2 linked regions of the Homo sapiens genome follow. The protein of the gene in region 1 purifies or fractionates together with the protein of each later gene. This does not show direct contact. Each region holds a gene or a part of one and is shown in the gene's direction. Other genes may lie near its edges.

Region 1 (3,630 bases):
TGCTTTAAAAAATTCAAAAATTCAGATTCGTATATATTTTTAACTTATGCACAGGCAGAGCAGTGATACATTGAGTGAATTTGAGACTCATCTGATCTGTTAGTTGCTATATATCCACAAATCAGCATAATCTGAGAGATATATCATAGTATTATAAAAAGTAATACATAATCTAAAATGCAACTGATTATGTAAATAAAAATCATTCCTGTAGACTAAGTGTTCAGATTGAATGCCTGCGTCACAGCAGAACCCACTGAAGATGCCTCACCGGGTTTTCTGTGCTCTGGTTTGTTGATGGATTTCACTTGACCCAGCAGGTAAACAAATGTTGTGTGTGTGCCTTGCAGGAAAGAACTGGCGGGGGCACACAGAACCAATAAGCCATGTGGGAAGTGCTACTTTTACCTTCTGATTAGTAAGACATTTGTGGAAGCAGGAAAAAACAATTCCAAAAAGAAACCTAGCAACAAAAAGAAAGCTGCGTTAATGTTTGCAAATGCAGAGGAAGAATTTTTCTATGAGGTAAGACTATCCTGCTTATTTGTTTAGATGTAAATAAGGATTTTCTTGAAAATGATTTATCAAGATTTATTGTTCTCCCACTTTAGGTCCAAGTCTTTCAAGTGTGGCTACTCTGTTTTTCTGTTTCCCCACAGGACCTAGCAGCTAACATAGTGCCAGGTGCATAGTAGGTACTCAGGAGGCTAGGCACCAGCCTCCTTGCCTGCACTGTGGTTATGAGCATGAGGAGGAGGAGGAGAAAAGTGATTAACCTGTTAAGAATGATTAGGCATTTATAATATGCTTCCTGTGAAATCTTTCATTCTAAAACCATGCGGAGAGGTAGACATTAGCCTGGGGTTTACAGATGTGGACTTTAAGGCATAGGGAAATGAGGGAAATTACCTGCGATCACACAGCTGGTCAGTGTGGAAGCTGGGGCACCCCTGCTGCTCTGTGTCCTTAGTCGTGGATGTCATCCTGCTGGTGGGATATCTCCAGCATTTTTTTCCTATAAAGGTAGCTTGTACTGTGATGGACAGCCATATACCAGAGAATATTCTTACCCTCTCTTCCTCTGAAAAATCTTGAAGTGGGCCAGGTGCGGTGGTGCACACCTGTAATCCCAGCACCTTGGGAAGCTGAGGCGGGCAGATCACCTGAGGCCAGAAATTCAAGACCAGCCTGGCCAACAGGGAGAAACCCCATCTCTACTAAAAATACAAAAAAAAAAAAATTAGCCGGGCATGGTGGCAGATGCCTGTAATCCCAGCTACTCGGAAGGCTAAGGCAGGAAAATTGCTTGAACCTGGGAGGCAGAGGCTGCAGTGAGCCGAGATCGCGCCACTGCACTCCAGCCTGAGCAACAAGGAAGAAACTCCGTCTCAAAAACAAACAAACAAACAAAAAACACAAAAACATCTTGAGCCAGGCACGGTGGCTCACGCCTGTAATCCCAGCACTTTGGGAGGTCAAGGCGGGTGGATCACGAGGTCAGGAGATCGAGACCATCCTGGCTAACATGGTGAAACCCCGTCTCTACTAAAAAATACAAAAAATTAGCCGGGCGTGGTGGCACGTGCCTGTAGTCCCAGCTACTCGGGAGGCTGAGGCAGGAGAATGGCATAAACCCGGGAGGCGGAGCTTGCAGTGAGCCGAGATTGCGCCACTGCACTCCAGCCTGGGCGACAGAGCGAGACTCTGTCTCAGAAAAAAAAAAATCTTGAAGTGTATCTCTGAGGGGAACATATTTTCCTGAATTGGATGATATCACATCACTTTGAAGACTTCTGCAGAAGACTAAAGCGCTACAAATTTAGCTGTGCCCTTCTTTTCCAGGAAGTAAATAGTAAACATAATTTTTAAAAAACATAGGCCGGGTGCGGTGGCTCATGCCTGTAATCCCAGCACTTTGGGAGGCCAAGGCGGGCGGATCACGAGGTCAGGAGATCAGACCATCCTGGCTAACACGATGAAACGCTGTCTTTACTAAAAATACAAAAAATTAGCCAGGCACAATGGTGGGCACCGGTAGTCCCAGCTACTTGGGAGGCTGAGGCAGGAGAATGGTGTGAACCCGGGAGGCAGAGCTTGCGGTGAGCCGAGATCACGCCACTGCACTCCAGCCTGGGTGACAGAGTGAGACTCTGTCTCAAAAAAAAAAAACAAACAAACAAAAAAAACAAAACCATATGCTTCAACACCTCAGGTTGACCATTTGGGGGGAGTGTGTATGGGTGTTTTAAGATGGCGGGGTATGCAGATTTACTCTGTCTTCACACAAAAGCCTGATGCTAAGGAAGCAGCTGAGAAAGTGAGAAAAGAGTGTTTGAAGACAAGTTCTTGTTAAATATCAAATTTTACAAGTCTTAATTTCATTATGTTTCACAAGATTATTTTGACAATTAAATGAAAATACCACTTAGCTGCTTGTTCACCTCTTAGAAATTGCACACCTCTATCCCTGTTCCTCATGTGGGTTTAAAATCTACTTGGTTTGTGTTTTATAACTTCTGCCTGAATGTCCCATTTGAACTTTTTCAATTCTGAGTTTTGCTTTTTTTTAGCTCTCATTCTTATTTAAGCATATGCCAAACGTAATATTCTTTGCCGTAGATCAAATGGGTTTTGTCTTTGGGTTGTCCCGATTTTTAATTCATGGTTACTTATTTGGTTTAGAAGGCAATTCTCAAGTTCAACTACTCAGTGCAGGAGGAGAGCGACACTTGTCTGGGAGGCAAATGGTCTTTTGATGACGTACCAATGACGCCCTTGCGAACTGTGATGTTAATTCCAGGCGACAAGATGAACGAAATCATGGATAAACTGAAAGAATATCTATCTGTCTAACCCATTTCCAATGGACAGTGATGGGCTTGTTTTTGTAAAATTACCAGAAAACTCAGTGGAGATTTACTGAAAAACTCAGACTTTATTCAGATTAAGTTCCTCTACAAAAAGTAGGGTTCTGTCCCATGTGTCTCTGACACATTTACAAAATACCAGTTTTTTAAAATTTTGGTCAAATTATGAGTGGTTGATTTAAAAACTTTTCCAAGAAGAAGAAAAGCATGGAGTAGTAATTTAAAGAACTCAATAAAAACTTCTATTTTTTATTTTAAAATAATATACACAGTGTTATTTTCTTCAAGACCGTCCTGTGGATGTGAAATCCGTCTTCGCGTCATGTATCTCCCATATCCAGCAGTTCAGCCATCCAGCTACCTTTGGGACCCTGCTGCACCTTGTGTTTGCTGGGGAGTCACTGGAGAGTGCATCTCTGTTCAGTTTCAGGGCACGTCTCACACATTTGCTGTTCCTTATTCATTGTTGACACAGGGGATAGGTGATCCACTACTTGCTGTAGAATGTCCTTACTTTCACTAGGAGGCAGATTACTGAAATAGTATTGTGGTACCAGCTGCATAAATCTGTTTATTTAAGACAAAAAGATGAGATTATGAGTGGGGAAGGTGGTGAGAGACACCAAACATTATGTCTGGGCACTTCCCATCCCTGGAGAATCTACCTGTAGAACCGGTATTTAATTTGAACTCAGATAGTATCTCAGTCCGACTTTGTAAAATAAATACTTTCTGTTTTTTATGCAGCCAATCCTGTTGCATT
Region 2 (7,335 bases), on another chromosome or scaffold:
CTCCAACTCCTGGCCTCAAGCAATCCTCCCGCCTTGGCCTCCCAAAGGGTTGGGATTACAGGTAATTACAAATACAGTTGCTATGAACATTTGTGTACAAGTCCTTCTGTGGACATGTGCTTTCATTTCTTTTGAGTAAATACCTAGGGATGGAATGTCTGAATCATATGCAAATAAATGTATGCTTACCCTTTTAAGAAACTTCCTAAGTTTTTTCCAAAGTGCTTGTACCATTTCATATTCCCATTAGTAGTGTATGAGTTTCAGTTGCTCTATGTTCTGACAAATTCTTGGTATGACTAGTCTTTTGGAATTTACCATCAAATAGGTAGGGTATGTTGTTGAGGTCTTAATTTATATTTTTCTCTTAATCTGTATTTCTTCTAATGACTAATGATGTTGCATATCTTTTCATGCCTTTATTTGTCATCCATATATGGCTTCTTTGATGAAATGTCTCTTCAAACCTTTTGCCCATTTTTTTGGGTTACTATTGAGGTATGAGAGTTCAAAAAATAGACACTCTGGATATAAATTTTTTTTTTTTTTTTTTTTTTTTTTTTTTTGTGGACAGAGTCTTGCCCTGTCACCCAGGCTGGAGTGCAATGGCGTGATCTCGGCTCACTGCAACCTCTGCCTCCCGGGTTCAAGTGATTCTCCTGCTTCAGCCTCCCAAGTAGCTGGGACTACAGGCGCCTGCCACCATGCCAGGCTAATTTTTGTATTTTTAGTAGAGTCGGGGTTTCACCATATTGGCCAGGCTGGTCTCGAACTACTGACCTTGTGATCCACCCACCTCGGCCTCCCAAAGTGCTGAGATTACAGGCGTGAGCCATCTTGCCCAGCCTGGATATAAATTATTTACCAGGGCCTGGCATGATGGCTCACACTTGTAATTCCGGCACTTAGAGAGTCTGAGGCAGGTGGATTGCTTGAGTCAAGGAGTTCGAGACCAGCCTGGGCAACATGGGGAAACTCCATCCTCTATAACAAATACAATAATTAATCAGGCATGGTGGTGCACACCTGTAGTCCCAGCACTAAGGAAGTTGAGGTGGGAGGATCACTTGAGCCTGGGAAGTCGAGGTAGCAGTGAGTCGTGAGCATGCCACTACACTCCAGCTCTTTTGAGACACAGCAAGACCCTATCTCAAAAAAAAAAAAAAAAAAAAAAACAACCACACACACACATTCTTATCAGATACGTGATTTGCAAATAGCTGCTTCAGTTTTTGGCTTGTCTTTCCATTCTCTTTCTGGGGCTGCAGTGACCTATCATAATGCCATCATACTCCTGGGCTCAAGTGATTCTCTGCCTCATCCTCTCAAGTAGCTGGGACTACAGGTGCATGCCACCATGCCCGCCTCAAATTTTTGATGCTGTTGTAGATGGTATTTTAAATTTCAATTTCAGATTGTTTATTGCTGGTGTACTACAAATGCCATTGACATTTGTGTATTGATTTTACGACCTGTAGTCTTGGTCATTTATTTGATCTGATAGTTTTTTGTAGATTTTGTGCCAGAGTTTTCAATAAATAAAACAAATAAAACCAGTTTTACTTCCTTCTTTGCTAATTTGAATGCCTTTTTTTTTTCCTTGCCTTATTGCACAGGCTAGAATCCCCAGTACAATATTGAACATAAGTTGTCAGAGCAGAAATCCTTGCCTTGTTCCTGATCTTAAGTTGAAAGCACTGTTCTTCACCATTAAGTGTGATGCTTTTTATAGACACTCTCTATCAAGTTGAGGAAGTTTCCTTGTAATCTTAGGAATGGATACTGGATTTTGTCCAATGCATTTGCTGCATGTATTGAGATTATCAAATGGTTTTTCTTTTTTAGTTTGTTAATATGGTAAATTACATTGCTTGATTTACCAATGCTAATTCAACCTTGCATTCCTAGGATAAGCCCCTGTTTGGTTATAATGTATTATCTTTTTTATATATTTTTATGTATTTATATATTTATATATCTTTTTTATATAATCTACTTTTTACTGCCTTGTCTCATGTAAACCTGTGTAATTTCCCATTGGGTCCACCTTAGGAAACAGTCTTTAAAGTTTTCTCCGTAAAGCAAGTACCAGTATACTCTTTTATGGTCAATACAATGCTAATTCAACCTTGCATTCCTAGGATAAGCACCTGTTTGGATATAATGTATTATCTTTTTTATATACTGTGAAATAAAAGTGACTAGAATTGTGCATATTATGTTTATGAGAGATATTGGTCCATAGTTTGCTTGTTTAATATCTAGAGTTTGGGTATTAGTGTAATGCTGGCCCCACAGAATGAGCTGGGAAGTATTCCCTCCTCTTCAATTTTTGGAGGACTTTATCTAGAATTGGAATTATGTTTTCCTTATATATACCATGTTAACACCCTACAAAAGAAAGCCTAAGTAGCTGTAATACTATCAGACAAAATATACTTCAGAGCAAAGAACATTATCAGCAAAGAGGAGGGTCATTTGTAAAGTGGATAATTTCATAATAATGAAACTTTCATAAAGGATAAATTCATACAAATAAGAGAATAACTATGTTTATGCAACTAATAGCTGAGCTGCAAAGTACATGAAGCAGAAATTGATAGAACTACAATTGAAAAAAACCAGTAATAGTCAGAAATTTCAATACTCTCAATAATTAGTAGAATAAGTAGACAGTAAATCAGAAAGGATATAGATTTGAACACTAATATCAACCAACTTGACATGATTGACATTTATAGAACACTCCATGCAACAACTGCAAAAAACACATTCATTTCAAATGCACAGTGAGTATTTACCAAGACAGACTATATACTCTGGGCCACAGAACAAGTGTCAATAAGTTTAAAATTATTAATAGTGTACGAAGTACCTTCTCTGATCACAATGGGATTAAATCAGAAATCAGTAACAGGCAGCTACCTGGAAAACTCCTCCACATTTGCAGACCAACACTTACAAAAAACCCATGGTCAAAAAAAGAAAGCAATAGGGAAATTACAAAGTATTTTGAAATGAAGGAAAATGAAAATACAATATATCAAAATATGTGGAATGTAGCTAAAACAGTATAGAGGGACACTTATCACACCAAATGCCTGTACAAACAAGAGACATCTAAAATTAATGGTCATCAGTTTCTGAGTTAAGAAACTAGAGAAACAAAACAAGAAATTTAAAAATTAAAAAATAGCAGAGTAAAGGAAACAATAAACATAAGAGCAGAAATCAATAAAATAGAAAACAGAAAACCAGTAGAGAAAATCCAAGAAAGCAAAAACGGGCTTTGAGATTTGAGATCCGTAAACCGAGAAGCCCCTCACCAGATCGATCAGAAAAAAAGATGACACACAAATTACCAATTTCAGAACCTGAGGGGTCAGATTTTATAGACATTAAGTGGACAATAAAGGAATACAGCTAACAGATTTGCATTATTAAACAATTTAGACATTTCTACAAATTATTAAAGCTCACTCAAGAGGCGATATCAATAAATATTTGTTGAATTAGTGAATACCAGCTATTACTATGGGCAAGGCGCTAAGTCCAGGCTTTAGAGAGAAAGAAAGCATTTTTTTTTTTTTTTTTTTTTGAGACAAAGTCTTGCTCTGTCGCCCAGGCTGGAGTGCTGTGGCACGATCTCGGCTCACTGCAACCTCCGCCTCCCGGGTTCAAGCGATTCGCCAGCCTCAGCCTCTTGAGTAGCGGGGTTACAGGCGCACGCCACCAAGCTCGGCTAATTTTTGTATTTTTAGTAAAGATGGGGTTTCACCATGTTGGCCAGGCTGGTCTCGAACTCCTGACCTCGTGATCCGCCCGCCTCAGCCTCCCAAAGTGCTAGGATTACAGGGGTGAGCCACCGCGTCCGGCCAAAGAAAGCATTTTCCTTCCAAAGAAGCTCTCAGGTTACTGGAGGGGCAAAAGAACAGATAAAGTTTAATGTTGCTCCGGGGGAGAAGATTAGGGGAACACTGGTTAAAGAAAGGCTTCTCTGGGGACAAGTCACTCGGCCAACACACGAAGGACCCACAGAAAACGTCTGTTACAGCTAGAACGGCTGCACGTGAGTTCAGGCAAGGGGCCCAGAAGTGGCCCTCCGGCGACTGCCTGCTCCACCCCTCTTAGTGCAGTCCTAACCCTTTCCCAACTTGTGCTGGCAGCAGTTAAGAAACTCCTTTCAAATCCGGCTGTCTTGCGCCTGCGCATTCAAGCAAAGCGCTCATAGGCGGGGTGGGGGGGGTGGGGGGGGTTGGGGGGTGGGGGGGGTTGGGGGGTGGGAGGGAGGCGGCCACCGGAAGTGTGACCTTTCGCTCCCCGCTGCCTATTCTCATCCGGGGTCACGTCGGTCTTCCGGGTGTCTTTGACAGGGTTTTCTACGCCGCTTTTTCGGCGACTTTTTGCTCTTCCGCTTTTTGCCACCGCCCCCAACCTTCTATATCCTTGCAGCCCCTACCTTTTCTTGTGTTGCTCCTCCCCTGGCAGCCGTGAGGGGGGTTAGATCTCAGCCGGAGCCGGAGCTGGGCCTAGCTGTCCCACGGGCCACCACTACCTCCTTTGGTTCGGGAGAAAGCTACGACCAAGTACGCCCAGCTCGGGCCTTAGAACTTCTGAACGGGCAGTGCGGGTAGGCCCTGCTTAGCCCTTCCCGGAGGACACCTGTGAGTTTAGGGGGTTTCGGAGAGGAACGCAGCAGTGTAGGCCCAGGTCGGCGGCGGGGCACGGGAAACTTTTCCGAAACGGTAGCGTTTTGTTTTGCGTGGGAGGTTCCAGCAGTATCTCTTGGTTATTCCAAATTTATGGGCGGCATCTGGGCTGCTGTACATTTTGAAGAATCTTAGGACCGCTTACTTTGCTTACTCGTTTTCTATTCCTCGCGTACTGCCTCGTCCACCACTCCAGGACCAAAAGAGGAAGATAGTCTTGGGACCCTTGCATGGTGTTTCAAAGGGTGGTGAAGAACTAAGGTACGTAGCTGGATTAATTAAAAAATTTAAAAGGCATTTATCTTTTAAGCCTTAATTAAATGGCATGAAATTGCTTCAGCTTTTCACTTTATAGGAAAATGCACAGGTTAAGACTGTTGTGTGCGTTTCTTTTCTTGTTCAGCCTTTGTAGAAAAGCTCTTCGTCTCTCAAGGTGAGAACACGAAAGGCTTATATGTCTCAAAACTTATGGATTCTCTAAATTACTTGTCTTATCTCTTTCAACTCTTTGTTTAAAGTAGCAGATATTTTTCATTAGGGTGAACAGAGAAGAAACAAAGGGAAACTGTAAAACACAAGCTAAATAACACATGTGCAGTGTATGATTTTGTGAAGAAAGAGATTGTAACTGATTACTAAATCTGTGTTTTTATATTACAGGTAACATAGTAACTTTTGTAAATATCTTCATATTGTATGGTTCAGTACCACCAGGCTTCTAACACGTACTGATTAACAGCCATAAGGCTATTAATTTATACTGATTAATAGCCAGTAATAGTGACGTTACTTTGTTGGTGTGAATAGCCCTAATTATGTCTGTTCTGGAAATGTCCTGTAACAGGTTCCATGTGAAATAGGCCGTTTATGAGTTGTTTAAGAAATGCCCATTTGGAGCCATGTGACTAGATTATTTTTTTGAACACTTGGGTGTAATTTAATTCTTAACCAAAAGGAATATCCTGTTCAAAACCTGGAAGTAGTTTTCACAGTGGGTTGGCAGGATTTAGGAACTGGATTTTTCGTATTGTGGAGAAAAGTGGGTTTGAGATATCAAAGGTATTTGGACAAAATGGACAGTATCTTGGTTTAGCCAGTAAATTTCTGGTTTTCATTCTAGGTATATTCTGCTTTCTAAAGAATCCTGATGAAGGAATTATATATAACCTTGAGTGTTCTCTAATTTGTTGGAGGAGAGGTCAAGTTGAGGACAGAAATTCCAGGTTGCAAATTCCAGGACCAAATACTTTATAACTAGAAATTACTAGGAATTAATCTTTTTTTTTTTTTTTTTTTTTTTTTTTGCAAGACGGAATCTTGATCTTGTCACCCAGGCTACAGTGCAATGGCACTATCTTGGCTCACTGCAGCCTCTGCCTCCTGGGTTCAAGCGATCTCCTGCCTCAGCCTGCCGAGTAGCTGGGATTACAGGCACGTGCCACTATGCTTGGCTAATTTTTGTATTTTTAGTAGAGGCAGGGTTTCACCATGTTGGCCAGGCTGGTCTCCAACTCCTGACCTCAGGTGATCCATCCGCCTCGGCCTCCCAAAGTGCTGGGATTACAGGCGTGAGCCACTGTGCCCGGCCGAATTAATCTACTCTTTTACTACCTTGTCTCATGTAAACCTGTGTAATTTCCCATTGGGTCCACCTTAGGAAACCGTCTTTAAGGTTTTCTCCGTAAAGAAAGTACCAGTATACTCTTTCATGGTCAAGTACAGATTGTGGAACTGATAACTTTTAAGGTAAGGAAAATTGGATATTGCCAATATCTGGATTTTATGTATCTATCATAAAATTTGTCACATAGGAGATGGTAGAAGACCATAGTTAATGTGGAGTAACGTTTTATATAGCTAATCTCTACTTAAGAAACCTTTCATTCAGAGTATGAAGAAAATGATTTAAAATTTTGTGGAGGTCCCCTTATTTCTGTTACAGTAATAGTTTTACTGTATTTTGTGAAACTCTACAGTCTCTTTAAAAAAATGATTATGTTGTTTATGATAATTGTTTTGATGTCATTTTTATTTTCATCAAAATCAATGTGAAATGTATTAGAAAAAGGCATAGAAATTCATAGGCGTTTCATTTACTTCCTCAACTCTAGATGTCTTTCAGAATACCTATATTGGTGAGCATAGAACGAATGCGTCGGAATGATTTTCCTCTACTTGAAGCCTACCTTCTTTAAAAAGAGCCTGACTTGAGGGCCAAAATTCATACTGAGGAGAGGCTGACAGATCCTTTGTTTTGCAGGGGCTCCAGAGCTTGATATATTTCTGGGAATTTGGAATATGCTAAACTAGATTTCTGCCCTAGACTAAACATCTGGCTGTGGACTCAATCTAAGTTTTTAAGCTGGGGATAATTTGGTCATTAACTTGGTAGAGTAGTTCTGAGCCACAAGTCATCTTTAGACTTAGTTTGGATTTGGCTGTGTAAGAGATGAAAACAAGGTGAGGCCTGGGCTCTTGATGTCATTTTGCATCTTCAAATCTTAATATACATGGACCTTATTCAGTTATAGAGGAAAAACAGCATATTTTTTATAGGTATAAACAAAAGTATCTAGGCTTTTTGCTATGAACCGATTTAAATAAACCTGAAAGTACAAGATTTTAA

What was found. The genes of interacting proteins can lie anywhere in the genome.
Region 2: the proteins of BCCIP (region 1) and TENT2 purify together in Homo sapiens (affinity purification with mass spectrometry; 3 studies listed by BioGRID and IntAct, with this or other methods). This does not show direct contact.

The regions. Positions count from the first base shown.
Region 1 is NC_000010.11:125,833,422-125,837,051, forward strand, and holds the end of BCCIP (BRCA2 and CDKN1A-interacting protein), read left to right. Parts: intron 1-350; coding exon 351-525; intron 526-2,682; coding exon 2,683-2,853; 3' UTR 2,854-3,130; downstream 3,131-3,630. Other genes in the region: putative pre-mRNA-splicing factor ATP-dependent RNA helicase DHX32, read right to left, coding at 3,266-3,434. UniProt on the Homo sapiens protein: During interphase, required for microtubule organizing and anchoring activities. During mitosis, required for the organization and stabilization of the spindle pole.
Region 2 is NC_000005.10:79,608,106-79,615,440, forward strand, and holds the start of TENT2 (poly(A) RNA polymerase GLD2), read left to right. Parts: upstream 1-4,335; 5' UTR 4,336-4,970; intron 4,971-5,112; exon of another isoform or gene 5,113-5,142; intron 5,143-5,829; exon of another isoform or gene 5,830-6,455; intron 6,456-7,335. UniProt on the Homo sapiens protein: Cytoplasmic poly(A) RNA polymerase that adds successive AMP monomers to the 3'-end of specific RNAs, forming a poly(A) tail. In contrast to the canonical nuclear poly(A) RNA polymerase, it only adds poly(A) to selected cytoplasmic mRNAs.